Linked DNA regions of Homo sapiens: region 1 is linked to region 2. A link means that fine-mapping ties the variant in region 2 to the expression of a gene that starts in the linked region. Tissue or cell type: esophagus mucosa. Region 2 holds a variant in brackets; the other region holds the start of a gene. All regions are shown on one strand. Distances are between the middles of the regions.

What was found. PIP is the estimated chance that this variant, and not a neighbour inherited with it, causes the effect.
Region 1: it holds the start of ENPP6, and the variant in region 2 is fine-mapped to the expression of ENPP6 in esophagus mucosa (GTEx, PIP above 0.99).

Annotation. Positions count from the first base shown.
Region 1 is chr4:184,214,186-184,222,282 of GRCh38, reverse strand. ENPP6 (ectonucleotide pyrophosphatase/phosphodiesterase 6) reads left to right here and starts at 4,410. Exons shown (of 8, transcript NM_153343.4): 1 at 4,410-4,704. The coding sequence starts at 4,464.
Region 2 is chr4:184,885,510-184,893,615 of GRCh38, reverse strand. It overlaps LINC01093 (long intergenic non-protein coding RNA 1093), which reads left to right. Exons shown (of 2, transcript NR_039977.1): 2 at 1-616. Among named protein-coding and RNA genes, the nearest start is that of LINC01093, 9.9 kb to the left of the region's middle. RefSeq lists an enhancer at 1-26. The variant G/A (reference allele first, on the strand shown) is at 3,581.

The sequences.
Region 1 (8,097 bases), 670 kb after region 2:
CTACCCCTTTCATTTAGGCTGTTGTCTTTATATCCTTTAATTCTTCGTAAGTCATCACTCGCAGCATAGTGTTATTCTTTTTACTTTAAGCAGTTATTTTTAAGGACATTTATGAAAGAAAAACATAGTCTTTTATATGTACTCACATATTGATCATTTATGAATTTTTTTCCCTTCCTGTGTATATTAATTTTCATCTTGTGTTATTTCCTCTCAAAGGACATTCTTTAGTATTTTTTTGTGGTACAAGCCTGTTGGTAACTAATTCTCTCATCTTTTGTTTATCTAAAAATGTCCTTATGTCGTCTTAAATTTTAAATAATATTTTTCCAGATACAAGGAGGGTTGACATGGACCAACAAAAGGCCAGCAGGGCTGCAAAAGCTGGGATGAATTAATTAATAGGACCAACAAGGGTGGATGTTGGCCGACATGGGCTGACTTGGGACCTCACTCTCAAATTGCATTGATTCTACAGCTAGAAAGTAGAAGCTAGAGCTTTGTCACTTTTCAGAGGTGAAAACTGAAGCCCAGAAAGGCAATTTCTTCAGAATCACACAATTGCATCATACCAGGATCTTGACTCTGGAATCACGTTTTTTTTGTGTTTTTTGTTTGTTTATTTTGTTTTGTTTTGTTTTGTTTTTCTGAGACTCTTTCCCTTCCATCTCACCTGTCTCTCCATAAAGGGGAGGCACCAGGGTGCTGACTAATCTGGACAGCACATTTCCTGAGAGCTCATGCATGTCCCTAGAGAGACTTGCAGCAGCTTTAGGACAAAGGTTCTTTCAACTTCTGGAGTAAATTTTTCATATTTTGCATTATCTAAGTGAAACCCCTGTGGACAATGACTTTACAGTATTGCCAACCCTTGAAAACAAGTTGCAATAAGCACTTATAAGCATTAGGTACTGATAACCACTCCCAAGTGAAGACATCCAGATCATAGACACATAGGTTTTGGATCACAAGACTTTGGGCACTTAATGTTAACCACCTGTATGACATATGGCTTTTAACTATTGCTTTTTAGCTTTCATTTCCAATCTTTTCTAGGTTAGACGGTTCAAGACCTGGAGACTGGCTTTGAGCAACCCTAGGATTACCTTGGCTTGAATTCCATCCAATACGTCTCTTTCTTCATATATTGGTATGTATATTAGAGATTCATATTGGCAATCATTTATTGATCCAAAGCTTTAGAGACATTGTCTAAACATGGTCATAACACAATATGATCATAAACATTATCATAAAACAATGATGACCCCACCCCAGATACATCACAACAATCTTTGTGGAGCCTTGGGAGCCTCTGGGGACCTGTGAACACGCTAATCTGAAGCAAGTTACTTCTGAGTTGACACCCACAACAGCTCAATGAGGCACTCAGGGAGCCATATTTTGAGTGTACCCTTGTTAGTAGTGGAGAAAAGTGGAAGTCCCTCTTATATTCATCTTTAACATTTGGAGTGCTTAACCTCTCCCAAAGTGAGCTCAGAAGCCATCCCAAAGTGAGCTCAGAGGCCATCCCAAAGTAAATCACTTGGACTTGCACTGTGACTCCAGCTTCGCAGTCCAGACAATCCCTGAGCCTCTCAGGAACTCACAGAGCACAGCTATCTGGGCCTCCTACCTCCATGGGCCCTCACCAGGGGAAGAAGTTCTCCTTCTAGCACATGTGATGTTCAGTGTCTAGGAGGCCCATCAACCCATCAGGCTGCATCTGCCTTTTCCCCTCCCCTCCCCTCCCTTCTCCTTCCCTTCCCTTCCCTCTCCTCCCTTTCCCTTCCCTTCTCTTCTCTTCTTCCCTTCCCTCCCTTTCCCTTCTTCCCATCCCTCCCTTTCCCTTCTTCCCATCCCTCCCTTTCCCTTCTTCCCATCTCTTCTCTTCCCTTCTTCCCTTTTCTTCCCTTCTTCCCTTTTTCCTTTCCCTTCCCTTCCCTCCCCTCCCTTCCATTCCCCTCACCTTCCCTTTCCTTCTCTTCTTCCCTTCTTCCCTTCCTTTCCCTTCCCTTCCCTTCCCTCCCCTCCCCTCCCTTCCCCGCCCCTTTCCTTCCCTTCTCTTCTTCGCTTTTCTTCCCTTCTTCTCTTCCCTTCCCTTCTTCCCTTCTATTCTTTTTTTTCCTTCCCTTCCCCTTCCCCTTTCCCTTTCCTTTCCCTTCTTTCCCTCCCTTCCCTTCCCCTCCCCTTCCCTTCCCTTCCCTTCCCTTCTTCGCTTTTCTTCCCTTCTTCTCTTCCTTTCCCTTCTTCCCTTCTATTCTTTTTTCCTCCTTCCCTTCCCCTTCCCCTTACCCTTTCCCTTCCCTTCCTTTCCCTCCCTTCCCTTCCCCTCCCCTTCCCTTCCCTTCCCTTCTTCGCTTTTCTTCCCTTTTTCTCTTCCTTTCCCTTCTTCCCTTCTATTCTTTTTTTCCTCCTTCCCTTCCCCTTTCCCTTTCCCTTCCCTTCCTTTCCCTCCCTTCCCTTTCCTCCCCTTCCTTCCCCTCCCCTTTCCTTCCCTTCCTCCCTTTTCTTCCTTTCTTCTCTTCCCTTCTGTTCTCTTTCCTTCTTCCCTTTTCTTCCCTTCCCTTTCTTTCTCTTTCTCCCTTCCTTCGTTTACTTTTCTTTCTTTCCTTTTTCTTTCTTTCTTCCTTCCTTTCCTCTTTCTTCTCTCTTTTCTTTTTCTCTGTTTATAGCAACAATACCACACAGCTCAAAGAAAAAAGAATAACATTGTTTTCAAAGTAACAACCTTTTAGGATAAACTCCCCTTTTCCTTATTTTTTAATAAGAAAAAAATTTAAATTTAATTATAAAAAGCATTACCTCTTATTGGAAAAAAGAATTCTGATCCTTGGCCAAGTCCCCTGAGAGGGGAGTGGTAATTTGGCCAATGTGTTTCTCTTTTGCAGCATAATTTAAAAAGTGACATGGTGATCCTGTGTTTGGGCTTGACTCAAATACAACAGAAAAAGAGAAGGAGAAAAGACACAAGCAGAGGGCAGAGGTGGAAGAGGGATTTTGGGGTTGACTGAGAGTGGCTGGTGTGGCTGGTGTCTATCTTCCTTCCCTGGAAAGTTTGCCCAGAGCCTGCAAGTTTCCTCAGGAGACAAGCAATGTTATAATGCGAATAACATCTAACATTTGTTCAACACTTGCTATGGACCATGCATGTTTTATGTCTTTTTTTTTTTGAGGCAGGGCCTCACTCTGTTGCCCAGCCTGGAGTGCAGTGATACAATCACAGCTTACTGCAGATATGACCACCTGTGCTCACACAATCCTCCCACCTCAGCCTCCTGTGTAGCTGGGACCAGGCACGTGCCGCCAGGCCCAGCTAATTTTTTAATTTTTTATAGAGATGGGGTCTTGCTGTGTTGCCCAGGCTGGTCTCAAGCTCCTGGCCTCAAGCAATCCTTCCACCTTGGCCTCCCAAAGTGGGCCACTGCACTCAGCCATGTTTTATAAGCCTTCACATGAATTGTGTTGTTTAATTTTATGTAGCATGACGGAGCCACTCTAGGGAACCCCTGGACTCTGGGTACTTTGTGCTAACTCTGTCTGCTCCCCAGCTCACATCTGCCTCCCTGTCACTAACCTCCTCCTATTTTCCACTCCGCCTAGTCTTCTCGGTCCCAAAGCCTGCATGGTAATTTCTAGCTCTGCTTTTCCATCTCAAGCTCTCAATCTCCAGCTCTCTATTTCATTTCCATCCTCCTGGGGCAATGCTGCTTCAGACCATTCTGCCAGTAATGATTTCCCATTGTCCAACTCTGGAAGCTTCTCATTGGCTCTAGGGCTCTTCTACGAACCACCTCCTCCTATGGGCACCAGCAGCTAAATCACATTTGAAAAATAAAATAATAACAAATAATAACACTGCATATAAAAACATAAGTGGCCAAGACATAGACAAATAACTTTTTTAAGTGCTGTGTCTACAGAGACACAGCTGGGAAGTTTACAAATGGGCCCACCGAAACGTATTGTTTCCTGTTTATGCACTGAGTCCAGAGGTTTGCGTTACTAAATTCTAAGTGAAAAAGAGTTTAAATGAGGCCATGATGTGGGATAACAGCAAATTAAAATCTTGCCCTTTTCCTTGGTTCCTCCCTTTGGTTAGCTCAACTGCAAAGTTAGTGTTGACTTTGTCATCTTCTAAAATTCCACCTCTGTGGGTGCTTGTATTTCTGGAACGTTCACCAAAAATAATAAGTTTGAACTCTCTCCCCTGGTGTTAATTCTGGGTTGTTTGGAACCCAGTTTATCTGAAGGAGTCGGTCTCTGGACTTTCTAGTAAAGGGTGAGCATAGATGTGTGGAAAAGGGGGTGCTGTTCCTTTAAATTCTGCAAGTGAACTTGACTCAGGAAGGCCAGCGGCTCAAGGTCCAGCCCCTGGAAGAGAGAATAGCTACAGATTCTCCATCCTCAGTCTTTGCAAGGCGACAGCTGTGCCAGCCGGGCTCTGGCAGGCTCCTGGCAGCATGGCAGTGAAGCTTGGGACCCTCCTGCTGGCCCTTGCCCTGGGCCTGGCCCAGCCAGCCTCTGCCCGCCGGAAGCTGCTGGTGTTTCTGCTGGATGGTTTTCGCTCAGACTACATCAGTGATGAGGCGCTGGAGTCATTGCCTGGTTTCAAAGAGATTGTGAGCAGGGGAGTAAAAGTGGATTACTTGACTCCAGACTTCCCTAGTCTCTCGTATCCCAATTATTATACCCTAATGACTGGTGAGTACCATGTCCTCTTCTGGGCAGGGAGGGGAGGGCTGGCATCCAGCAGGGAACAGTGAGCTCCTGGCATTGGAGTCTTATTTAAATGCTCTGGATTCTCTAGTCCTTTGGGACATCAAAGGTAGATAAAAAAAATCTGTGTTCTTGGCTGAGAAGACTTTTGTTTTCGTGGCGGTATTGTTTCCCAAAAGTTATCCCAAGGACCTGTTTTGGATTCTCAGTGCGGAGGACAGAGAACTATAGCAGTACATGATATTTGACGATATTAAAAGTGGTCGTTTATTTTAGAAAGAGAAATTCTAATGAGGCTCATATTTTCTAAGTTCAAGTCTGCAAAAGCAACAGGTGTCCGTGCATGTGTCCCAAACTCCTTCTGTCCCTTTTCTCTGTGGTCATGTCATCCTGGCACCCTGTGGGCTTGTTTCTCAGTGTGTTGGACTGTGAAAGTACCTGTGGGGTCCTCAGAGGGGAGTGGTGCTCCCGGATTACTTGGGGAAGGGGGGATGTTTAGGTCATATCCTTCCCTGTGACTTAGCAATGCCACCTTCCCCTTCTTTTGCCTTTTTGGCCAGGTAAAATGATACGGAGAAGAAAAAGCTTGTGTCGTTCAGGTTCCCCATTTGTGATTTGCAGCATCTACAAAAGACCAACCAGCAAAAACTCCACAAAACAAACAAAAACCTCGGCTAACCCAGACTGCCTGGGCTTGGGATAGCTGATTTTCCTAAGGACGGCCTTCATCTGAAATTGCCAGGACTCCAAACGCGACTGCATGAACCTGAGCCTCTATCCGTGCGATAATAGAATGTGCAGCCCTCTCTCTGCTCACAGAGTTGGATTCCCAGTTTCTGGTTTGTTTTTCAGCTATAACCTTTGTAAAGGCAGCGAGAGGCTCTCAGAAAGAATTTAGCAAACTATCCAGGGAGGCTGCTAAGAATGCACTGTTATTGCTGGTTATGCGGGACTCAGCTATGCACTCTGAGCACAGAGAGAGCTCTGCTAATTATGTTAACAGAAAGAAAATGAGATCTCTGATATCTCATGGACCTCCACAGAACACTAAAGCCAAAAGAGTCTAAAACAGACATTTATATCTCTGACTTTGTGCATAGATACTATATACACATGTACGGAAAAATGCCATAAACTGATGCCCCAAACTGAAGGGGAGAGATACTTCGGAGAAATAAAAATGAGGGCATGAGAGAGAGAAAAAAATCAGACTGCACACAAGCAAGGAAGTTATGTATTTGTTTTTTATTTCCCCCAGCAGACAAAAAAACAGTCTCTAAGATAAACAGAATTAACAAAATTCTCTGGCCCTCCCCTGGCATGTGTCTCCCCTTGCAGGGAAGCAGTTTGCAGGCTGCCGGCTCTCACATAGACGTGATTGTGTGGACAGCCGACTCCAGCTCTGTGCAGCGGCTTCACACACACAGCCCACCCCCACTCCAGCTGTCTTTCAGAGCCTTGCCAGGGGACCCAATTCATAAACTGCCACGCCACGTGCAGCTTCTGCAATCTTAGTGGAAAATGAACAAAATCCATCTTAGAAAGGACTCAAGTAAGTAAAAGGACCATTACAGACTCCACAGAGACACTAAGCCAATGACATGGCCTTTTGTTTGTCAGATCCACACTCCTGATATTGGCACAAGGAATAATTTGCACACAGCCTCCGTCATGCTGAGACACACCTTCTTTTCCGGCTGTGGGTGTTTTCCCTTGTGCTGTCCTGAGAGAAGGGCCCCTTCCTTTATGGGCAGCACAGGTCCCGTGAGTGTCTGACAAAGATCTCACCCTTGCTTTCAAACTGAGGCTGGCCCGAGGAAGCCACAGGTCTCCATATGTGTTAAGTCTCTGTATTTTCAGATGGCCAAATGTATTCACTGATGTGGAAGTCTGCTTGGTCTATATGTTTCATAGAAGCTACCCTGCACAAGGGAGGGATCTAGCAAGGCTCATGTTTCTGTACAAATGTCCTTGGGTATGATTTGTCTTGTACCTACTGGGCAGACTTGCAGACTTGAAGCAGAATTCGCAGGCTGGGAAATGCCAGGCCATGAACCTGGTATCACCTCCACTGTCTTGGAACTGACTCAGAGTTAAATTTAGACTATTTTCCCCAATACCCATACTTATTTTTCCACCTGATGCTGAAAACCTCCTCTTTTACTCATATAAAGAAGGATATAGCCATTGGGAATTGTAGCTAAACATATGGTTTGAGCATTTGAGCATTTTATGAACCAACAAAATTGCTATGCTAGATCTTTTTGGAAGCAAAAGATATGCTGTTTTAGGGTTCCTCAGCATTCACAAGAGAGGCTAAGCTCTCACTTCATTACCCGAATTATTGCTCAGAATACAGAAAGCCCTTGGTGTTCTTCCCTTTGCATAACGAGGAGTGATGAGTTGTTGGAAAGAATGCTGGCCCTTGAGCTGGGAGAACTTGCTTGGAGACTTCAGGCAAAATAAAATGAGATGAACTGCCGGGGCTGCATCAGGCCGGGATTTCAGGTGCTGCTGGATGCAGACATAGAACTAGGCAATGCATGGGGAATTTTATTTTATTTTATTTCACTTTAAATTCTGGGACACATGTGCAGAACGTGCAGTTTTGTTACAGAGGCATACATGTGCCATGGTGGTTTGCTGCACCTGTCAACTCGTCATCTAGATTTTAAGCCCTGCATGCGTTAGGTATTTGTCCTAATGCTCTCCCTCCCTGTGCCCCCGATCCTCCAACAGGGCCCAGTGTGTGATGTCCCCCTCCCTGTGTCCATGTGTTCTCATTGTTCAACTCCCACTTATGAGTGAGAACATGTGGTGTTTGATTTTCTGTCCCTGTGTTAGTTTGCTGAAAATGATGGCTTCTAGCTTCATCCATGTCTCTGCAAAGGACATGAACACATTCTTTTTTATGGCTGCATAGTATTCCATGGTGTATATGTGCCACATTTTCTTTATCCAGTCTATCATTGATGGGCATTTGGGTTGGTTCAAAGTCTTTGCTATTTGCACAGGTAATTTTAAAGTTAGGGCTGGACCCTCCTAGGAGGCCTTCGTGTAGAAAGTATGCAAATAGCGGAAACTCCCTTGAGACAGAGAATTTCACAGTGGATGGGGATGGGGAATCAACAGGCCTATTTGTGAGCAACCTTGAAACCATCTAGCCCAGTTGCTGCCATGAAGCCACCATGGCTGATTATTTATTTGCCTCAAAACATGTTTATATCAGGACAAAAGCAACCAAAATGCCAATCATGATCATGAAGATGAATCAAACAATTGAATGCCAGGAACATTGAATCTTTTTTCTTTTTTTTTTTATTATTATACTTTAAGTTTTAGGGTACATGTGCACATTGTGCAGGTTAGTTACATATG
Region 2 (8,106 bases):
TGACCAGTACTTAGTATAGGATTTTGTGCTGTTGGTCACTTTTCATAAAGGTTCTTGCTATTAAGGAACTTGACATCCAATGTACTCATAGAAAGTAGAAATTCAGGGGAAACAAATAGAAGAGATATGTCCAAAAATCCATTTAAAATTTCATTGACAGATATTTATCTCTTTAATCCTGGAAGTTGTTTCATGTAAGGGAAGGTTCAGTAGAATGAAAACAGGACTGTAAGCTGGGAGGAGATTTGGGGTCTCTTGGCCAACTCTGCCACAAATTGTGTTACCTTCAACTTCCCTGCCTGTAAAATGAAGTCAGTGGTCCCTAAAATGAAATTGGACTAATGGCAAATTAGCTAGCATTTGATTATACATCGATAGTTTCCCCATGTGATTTTAACGCACAAATCAGATTTTGGAACCATTAGGTAGGTGATCTTATCTTATGAGTTTATCTTTTTCAACATGGAAAAATAAATTTGTTTTGCTGACCGAAGGCTGTGTAACTTAGAACTGGAAAGAGACATGTAATTGAATAACCCATCTCTATGGGGCAAAAAAATGAAACACCTTTAGTTTGTTCAAAGATGAAATGGAAAAATAAACATGTTTTAAGATGACTTGGTAGAGAAAATATTTTCTTTGCCAGGATATTAGAGAATTTGTCAAAAGTTATTACACAGGAAAGTCAAAGGTTTCATTGCAGGAACTTAATAAATATTTGTTTATTAGCTGATTAATGTGCTGATCCAAGCAGAGAAGGAATCCTGTCTTTGTTTTAAAGTCAGGATTTCTAATTTCCCTTTCAGGATAAAAATGTGCTCTGTGTTCAGCTAAGCAACCTAAACTGTCTATTCCATTATTCAAACAAACACCAAAAAGGATTGAATGTATCCTCTGGCAACCAAAGATAATACTCCCAGGTCAAGCTTCTTTCAGGCAGATATTAATGGTTACTTTTAGTTATTGAAAAATATTGCATAATTCATGCGCTGTGCTTGACGAAGCAGATCCCACTCTGGGGCCCTCAGGAATTTGAGGCAGAATTCCCTACTCTTTGAGGGTGTCTTCATTCCCCACCCTGGGTGTTTATCATGCCTCTGAGTGAAACCCATAGGATGACAATGGCATAGCTTTTCAAAAAAGAAATCATCCAAAGTCCTTTCTAAAGTGCAGAAGTCAGAACTATTGATTCTGAAATTGAGCCATTTCCAGTGGTACCAAAGAAGTGGTATATTATAGAATTAGAATATGTCTTCTATTCAGCACATTCCAAATCACTCTCTATTCAAACATACTCAAAATGTATTTTTATTCAACATATTCAAAATGTTCATCCTTCAAAAAGTGCTTCCCCCATTAGCCAGCCCCCTGCAAGTCAGTTGTTCCCACCTTTATTCCACTGATATGGAGGTCATTTGAATGCTGTTTGCTCTGTTAAGATGCTGTCATTTGAACAATACACTCACATTTCAGGCAAATTTGAATCATGCAAATTTTAAATAATGCTATGTAAAATAGCAATAAAATACTACTGGAGATTGCTCAATTTCAGAATGGGCAACATTTGAAATAGTCCAAATTCCTCCAAATTTGCATGATTTATCCAGAATGGCATAACAAATCCAGAGCACAGCCAGTGAAACTTACGCTGTGTTTGGACCCTGGTCTGGTGGCTGTGCCACAGTTGCGGTAAACAGAAACCTCCACAGGGAAACCTCCACAGGCCTTGGTCAGTGTGATGGGGAGTAGTACAATGAATCAAAGCAGATGTTTTCCTGAGTGATTTTTGTGGCTATAGTGCTGGGGTTTTTTTGTTTTTTTTTTTTTTTCATTGTGTTAATAATTTAATATCTTTTCTATCCTATGAAAGTATCATGTAAGCTTTTATAATATAGTGGCACTGAAAACGTGCTGTAAATTATGATCCATTCAGTATGACAGGGGAATGGTTCCAGGACCCCCGGCACCTTCCACCCCAGGATACCAACATCTGTGATGCTCAACTAACTGATAGAAAATGGCCTAGGATTTGCATAGAACCTACTTACGTCTTCCTGTATACATTTTTTTTTTTTTGAGACGGAGTCTAGCTCTGTCTCCCAGGCTGGAGTGCAATGGCACGATCTCAGTTCACTGCAGCCTCCACCTTCCAGGTTCAAGCAATTCTCCTGTCTCAGCCTCCCAAGTAGCTGGGATTACAGGCACATGCCACCACACCCAGCTATTTTTTTTCTATTTTTAGTAGAGACTGGTTTCACCATGTTGGCCAGACTTATCTCGAACTCCTGACCTCAAGTGACCCACCCATCTCGGCCTCCCAAAGTGCTGGAGTTACAGGCATGAGCTACCATGCCCAGCCCCTTCCCATATACTTTAAATCAACTCTAAATTACTTATAATATCTAATGCAATATAAATCCTATGTATATAGTTGTTATACTGTTTGGCGTAGGGAATAATGGCAAGAAAAAGCCTGTACATGTTCAGTACAGACACAACCATCTTTTTTTGTTTGCTTCCTGAATACTTTCCATCCATGGTTAGTTGAATCTGAGAATGTTGAACCCCTGGATTCCGAGGGCCAACTGTGGTATGAAGTGACATTAGATGTGATAGACGAAGAAGGCCTGTCACTGGCCGTGATCCATTGGGCCATTAATTTGGGAGAAAGACTCTGCAACATAAAAGAGATTCTGCTAGGAAGTGTTTTGAAGCATCTTTAAAGCAAGGATACCATGAATCTAGATGTAGGCACTCTGAGAACATACTCCCTTCCTGTCTTATGATTATCTATAGGAAAATTAGACTTAGATTAGGCACATCTTGGATGATGCCTTTCTTCCGGAACGTGGCTACCTTTAAATATTTTCATGTGAATATAGTGCACGTGCTTCCTAGATTGTAATCTCCTCGGAAGGAAGCAGAAACCATCTGTTGTTTTTATATCCCACACTCCAGCTAGCTAACGACAATAATGGTGACATTGTGACAGCAGTTTACTGTTTACAAAGTGCTTCTGTCTCAGTTCACCCTTGTGATGACACTGCAAGGTGAGTTTTCTTGGTTTCTAAGTTTGACAGGCCAGGACCCAGAAGTGTAGAGAGAGTCATTGATTTGTCTGGGTCACTCGGCAACAAGTGGTGGGTAAGAAACTGGAGAATGGGAAGCTGCAGGCATGGGATGGGAAGCTACAGGCATGGGATGGGAAGCTGCAGGCATGAGATGGGAAGCTGCAGGAATGGGATGGGAAGCTACAGGCATCCGAATGGGAAGCTGCAGGCATGGGATGGGAAGCTGCAGGCATCCGAATGGGAAGCTGCAGGCATGGAATGGAAGCTACAGGCATCTGAATGGACTTCTTGCATCTGTCTCCCTTTGAAACCCTGCATCTGATTCCGTCTTCCGGGTACAGGCATGTCTGGCAACACGGAGGATGAACACCTCTCACCCTGCCTCCCTGCTGCATGATCTTTGACTGTGGTCCCTCACTCGTTCCTCAGAGCATCAGTTCATCAGGGGGACTCATCTGGGGCTGGCTGGTGAGGAAGAAGGGTCCCTGGTGTGCACTGATGTTCACTGC[G/A]TGGAAATGTGTCCCTTGGGATGGAGAAAAGTGGAGGGGCACACTCCATATCAAAGCAGAACTGTCATAGCTGCCAGTCCCGGAGAAAGCAGCAGAAAAAGCCAGGGGACCGGCCACGTTCTATTTCCAGCCATAATGAGTCATGAGATCGTGGAAAGGCCCTTTAACCTCTCCAGCCTTAATTTCCTCATTTGTAAAATAAGAACAACACTTGTCTAAGCCACCTCACAAGACAGTTGTGAATGATGGGAATGGTTTCTTTCTAACGTATGTCACGCTTGGGCAGGGCTGCCCTGGGACCTCCGGTGAGCCTGCTGCAGGAGAGAAGCCTCCCCCCACCATGTGAACACACCCTCCCCACCCAGCCCCCACACTCCCTGGCTGGCACACACGGGACTTCATTATTATTGTTGTTTTAAAAAATGAATTTGGCATTTTGCATTTGAAGAATAAATAACAAATATTCTAGCTAGTCAAATAAACTGAAATACATATTTATAAGCCAACCTATTTTGTTAGTTTTTACAAATATAAAATTATGCCCCCTTTTGGTCTATAAACTAAAATCTATACAATTATCTGAGTGTGAGGAGTGGAATCAGTTTTAAGAAATTTACTTTGGAGGCCAGGCACAGTGGCTTACTCTTGTAATCCCAGCACTTTGGGAGGCTGAGGCAGGTGGATCATTCGAGGTCAGGAGTTCGAGACCAGCCTGGCCAACATGGCGAAACCCCGTCTCTACTAAAAATACAAAAATTAGCTGGGTGTGGTGGCGCCCACCTGTAATCCCAGCCACTTGGGAGGCTGAGTGGGGAGAATCAATTGAGCCTGGGAGGTGGAGTTTGTGGTGAGTCAAGATCATGCCACTGCACTCCAGCCTGGGCGACAGAGTGAGACTCTGTCTCAAAAAAAAAAAAAAAAAAAAAAAGGAAGAAAGAAATTTACTTTGGAAATGCCCAGAACAGGCAATTTAGATGAATTTATGAGGAATCTCTTTTCCTTGACCCAAAGGTACCTAGGGTATAGCTTTACCAAACGAAGGAGATTTGGCAGGGAATGTGTCCTTGTCCTCCAGAAAACAAGGAGTGGCTCTGAAAGCAACACAGGGGAGAAGGAGGCTCACTCCTACACACACATGTACAACCCCAGGAAGGGGGCAGGTGGGAAGCAGGAACACCCCCTTCTCCTCTTCTCAAGCCTCCACCAGTACCCCTTGTCCTTTGGTACCAGCCCTGCCCCTTCCTGGCTGCCTCTGGGGTGCATCTAATTTTGCCTGAGTTAATATCTCTGTCAATGGTTCTACGCAGTGGGCTTTGCTCTGGGGAAAGACAGCAATAAGTTTTGTGTTGTGGTCTTTTGATTCTGGTTGCTGGGAGTGCCATGTTGAAGGTGAGTCTCAGGCGAGCCATGGCTCAGGGAGAGTAGTGAGCACCCATTCCACAGAGCTGCTTTCCCTTCTCCTGGGCCTGAAGTTCCCCTGGGAGGGTCTTGGCTGACAGCCTGTGGCAACCAAGCTTCTTTGTTCACTGTTAGACACACCAGAATTTGACACAAGTCAAGAGTGTGCAAGTGTATGTTTAGAGAAAGAGGGCTTTCCCTCTTACCCGTTGCATAAATGACTTTAAAAGAATCTTCAAACTGCAGATGTTCTAGTATGTTTCTAGGTCCATCCACCACCCCCACTTACCCCCTTTGGTATAGAGACCTGTTCTGAGGTTGGGTAAGGAGGCTTCAGGAGGCCCTGTGACTTGTCCTAGGCCACTCAGACAATTGGTAGAAGAGCCAGGCCTAGAACCAGTTCTCTGTACCCTCCCATCTTGGGACATGGCTAGCATGCCCTGGTTCCCTGGTTATCCCTCGGGAGGGTCAGACTATGTAGGTCAGAACTCAGATAAGGCACCTGGGGAACACATGGAGAGGCCTTTGCCAAGAGCAGTGCAGCCTGAGAAACAGAATGAAATCTTTGAATGTTGTGGCTGCAGAAGGAGGCAATGTAATCGACTGCTGGTGAAACCCAGGAAAGGAAGCTGGGAGCAGGCGACGTCGGAGATTGAGGTGTTTAGTATCCAGGCCGCAGGCACTGGGCCCCATTTTTGGGAACAGGCCTCTTACCCCTGGGAGGGTATCCAGCACTAAAAAAGTCAGAAGCTCAGTCCCATGGGGACTGAAGTTGTTGGCAAGAGGCATAAATGGATATTCAGGTTTAAGAAATAGGGCTGGAACCTCATGATTACATCAAAGATGGGGCTTATGAAGGGAGAGGGGGCAAAGAAACACCACAGCGTCCAGAAAAAGGTGTCTGAGTGTTGGGCCAACCCCGCTAGGCCCATAGATAGGGGTGGTCCCAGAGGTGAGAAGGGGGTTGAGCCTGCAGATTTGGGATAGTTAAGGGGATTGGTGCAGGGACAAAGATGAAGGCTGCTGACCAGGCAGAACTTTGCACTGACTTTTAGCCCAGTGCTCTTTTCTATTAAATATTTATCTATTAGAAGTTCTGCAAGGCTAAGACTTTTCACCCTTGTACCCTATAAAAAAGGAAGGGTAGAGATGTGAGGTTCTGACTCGCTCCTGCCAGTTTGGGGAAAGCAGTCGTATTTACCCAGATTTGGCAATCCCATATTGGATAACTCAAGCAGAGGAAAGTCTTAGCCCATGGCCAAGCTCCCAGTTCTTCATAAATACCAGGAAAAAATGGGCTTTTAAAAGGTGTTACATAAGTCATCCTATTGAAAAGTCAGGTAGGGAGTACAATGTGCAATTCAGTCAGTAAGGCAGTTGCCACTAGACTCGTGGAGGGAAGAGGGAGATTGAGACTTGTATGGGAGGCAAGATAGAGAGGGGAGGAATACTAGTCTTGCAGTCAGAAAACCTGGTTGACTCTGCTATCCCACTGCTCTGGGCAATGTCCTCATCTATAACATGGGGAATACACATCCCAGAGAGGAATAAGAAGTAAATGAAATTGTATCTTTGCAAGTGCATTGAAAGAATTGCAGAGAATTATTCTCCTATAATTTACATCCACCACCCCTTTCCTCTTTCTTGGCTATTCAGATATTCTTGGCTGAGTCGAGGAATGAATACCCAGCTTGATTAGGCAGGTGTGGACTGAGGCTGGTGACCAACCCCACTGTCCCTCAGGAGCTTGGTGGCTGGTTCTTCTAGCAATAGCTCACCTGTGTCTAATCCCACATTTACTCTCTTAGAGCAAGAGAGAGAGGCTAGCATTCTGCTGACTGTCCAGGCACTGAAATGATCATGGTCAAGTCATATTCAACTAACTCCTTTTTTTCTGTAGAAAATACTATATTATAGAGTTGCACATGATCTTGTTGTAGGAGGGAGGTGAAAAACTAATTAAGAACATAGCTTGCTGAATGAGTATTTCCTCAGAGTTGATTAATATCAGTGTGCTAGCCAGAGCGAGATCATTAGGTCTCTGTTTTTGGCCATGGTCAAACTGACAACTTAATGAGTAATGCACAGAAAGCATGCTGATCAGATCTGCAAATGCGGGAAAAATACTTACAACCAAATAGCAAATGCTAACTAAATAGATGATAAACAAAACCAAATAAATGCCCGTAAGATTCTGTTAATGATTTTCGCCCCTGGATGTGCACTAGAATCAACAGGGAAACATATTTTAAAAATATTCATGCCTTCTAATTTAGTTTAATTTCCCCGGGAATTTAAAAAAAAATTAAAGAAAAAAGAAAAATCACATGACTAGGATCCTTTCCCAGAGATTCTGACTGAGTGTGGGGCCAATCTATGTGAAAATCATTTTAGAAGGTAGTAAAGGCAAAACAAAACCAAGATGCGAAGTGGCATACACTTTAGGATACTAAGTATATGAAAATACATACGCAGAAAAAGATGGTAGGAAAATATAAGAAACTGTTAACTGTGATTAACTCAGGATTAGCAAACAGATTGATAATAAGTGACCTTACTTTCACTGTATTTTCCACGAAGCCTTCAATAGTCACAATGTATTGCTTTTTAATCAAGGGAGAAAAGTTGATTTTTTAAAAAGATGTTGGAGTTGACTGATTACTTTTGTGTGCCAACTGTATAATGTTGGTTACTAAAAAAACTATCAGAATCATAGGCTGCCTGTCCATGAACATGGTAGCTACTTAAGATCACGAATGACACCATGGGCTTTGTGCTGGGCAGAACTCACTGGAGTTGTGTTTGCCTCTGAGGACCATATATGGATAGGGATATCATCCGCCAGGAAATGAAGGGCTGCAACACATCATGAGTCAAGAGCAAGATCCTGGTTTGGAAAAGAGGAGACGGGGCTACGGCAACTGTCTCTCTATATCTGAAGTGCTTTACTAGAGAAGAAGGAGCAGGTGTCCTCAAAAGCCATTCATCAGCAAGAACATGCTGGCCCAACCTAAGAAAGAGCCTGAAAGAATAAAAAGGTGCAGCAGCAGGGTTGGCTGCTTCCAAATGTATGAGGTACCCCATTATGCAAAGTGTCAGTGCACGCTCTGAAACTTTATGTATTTGGT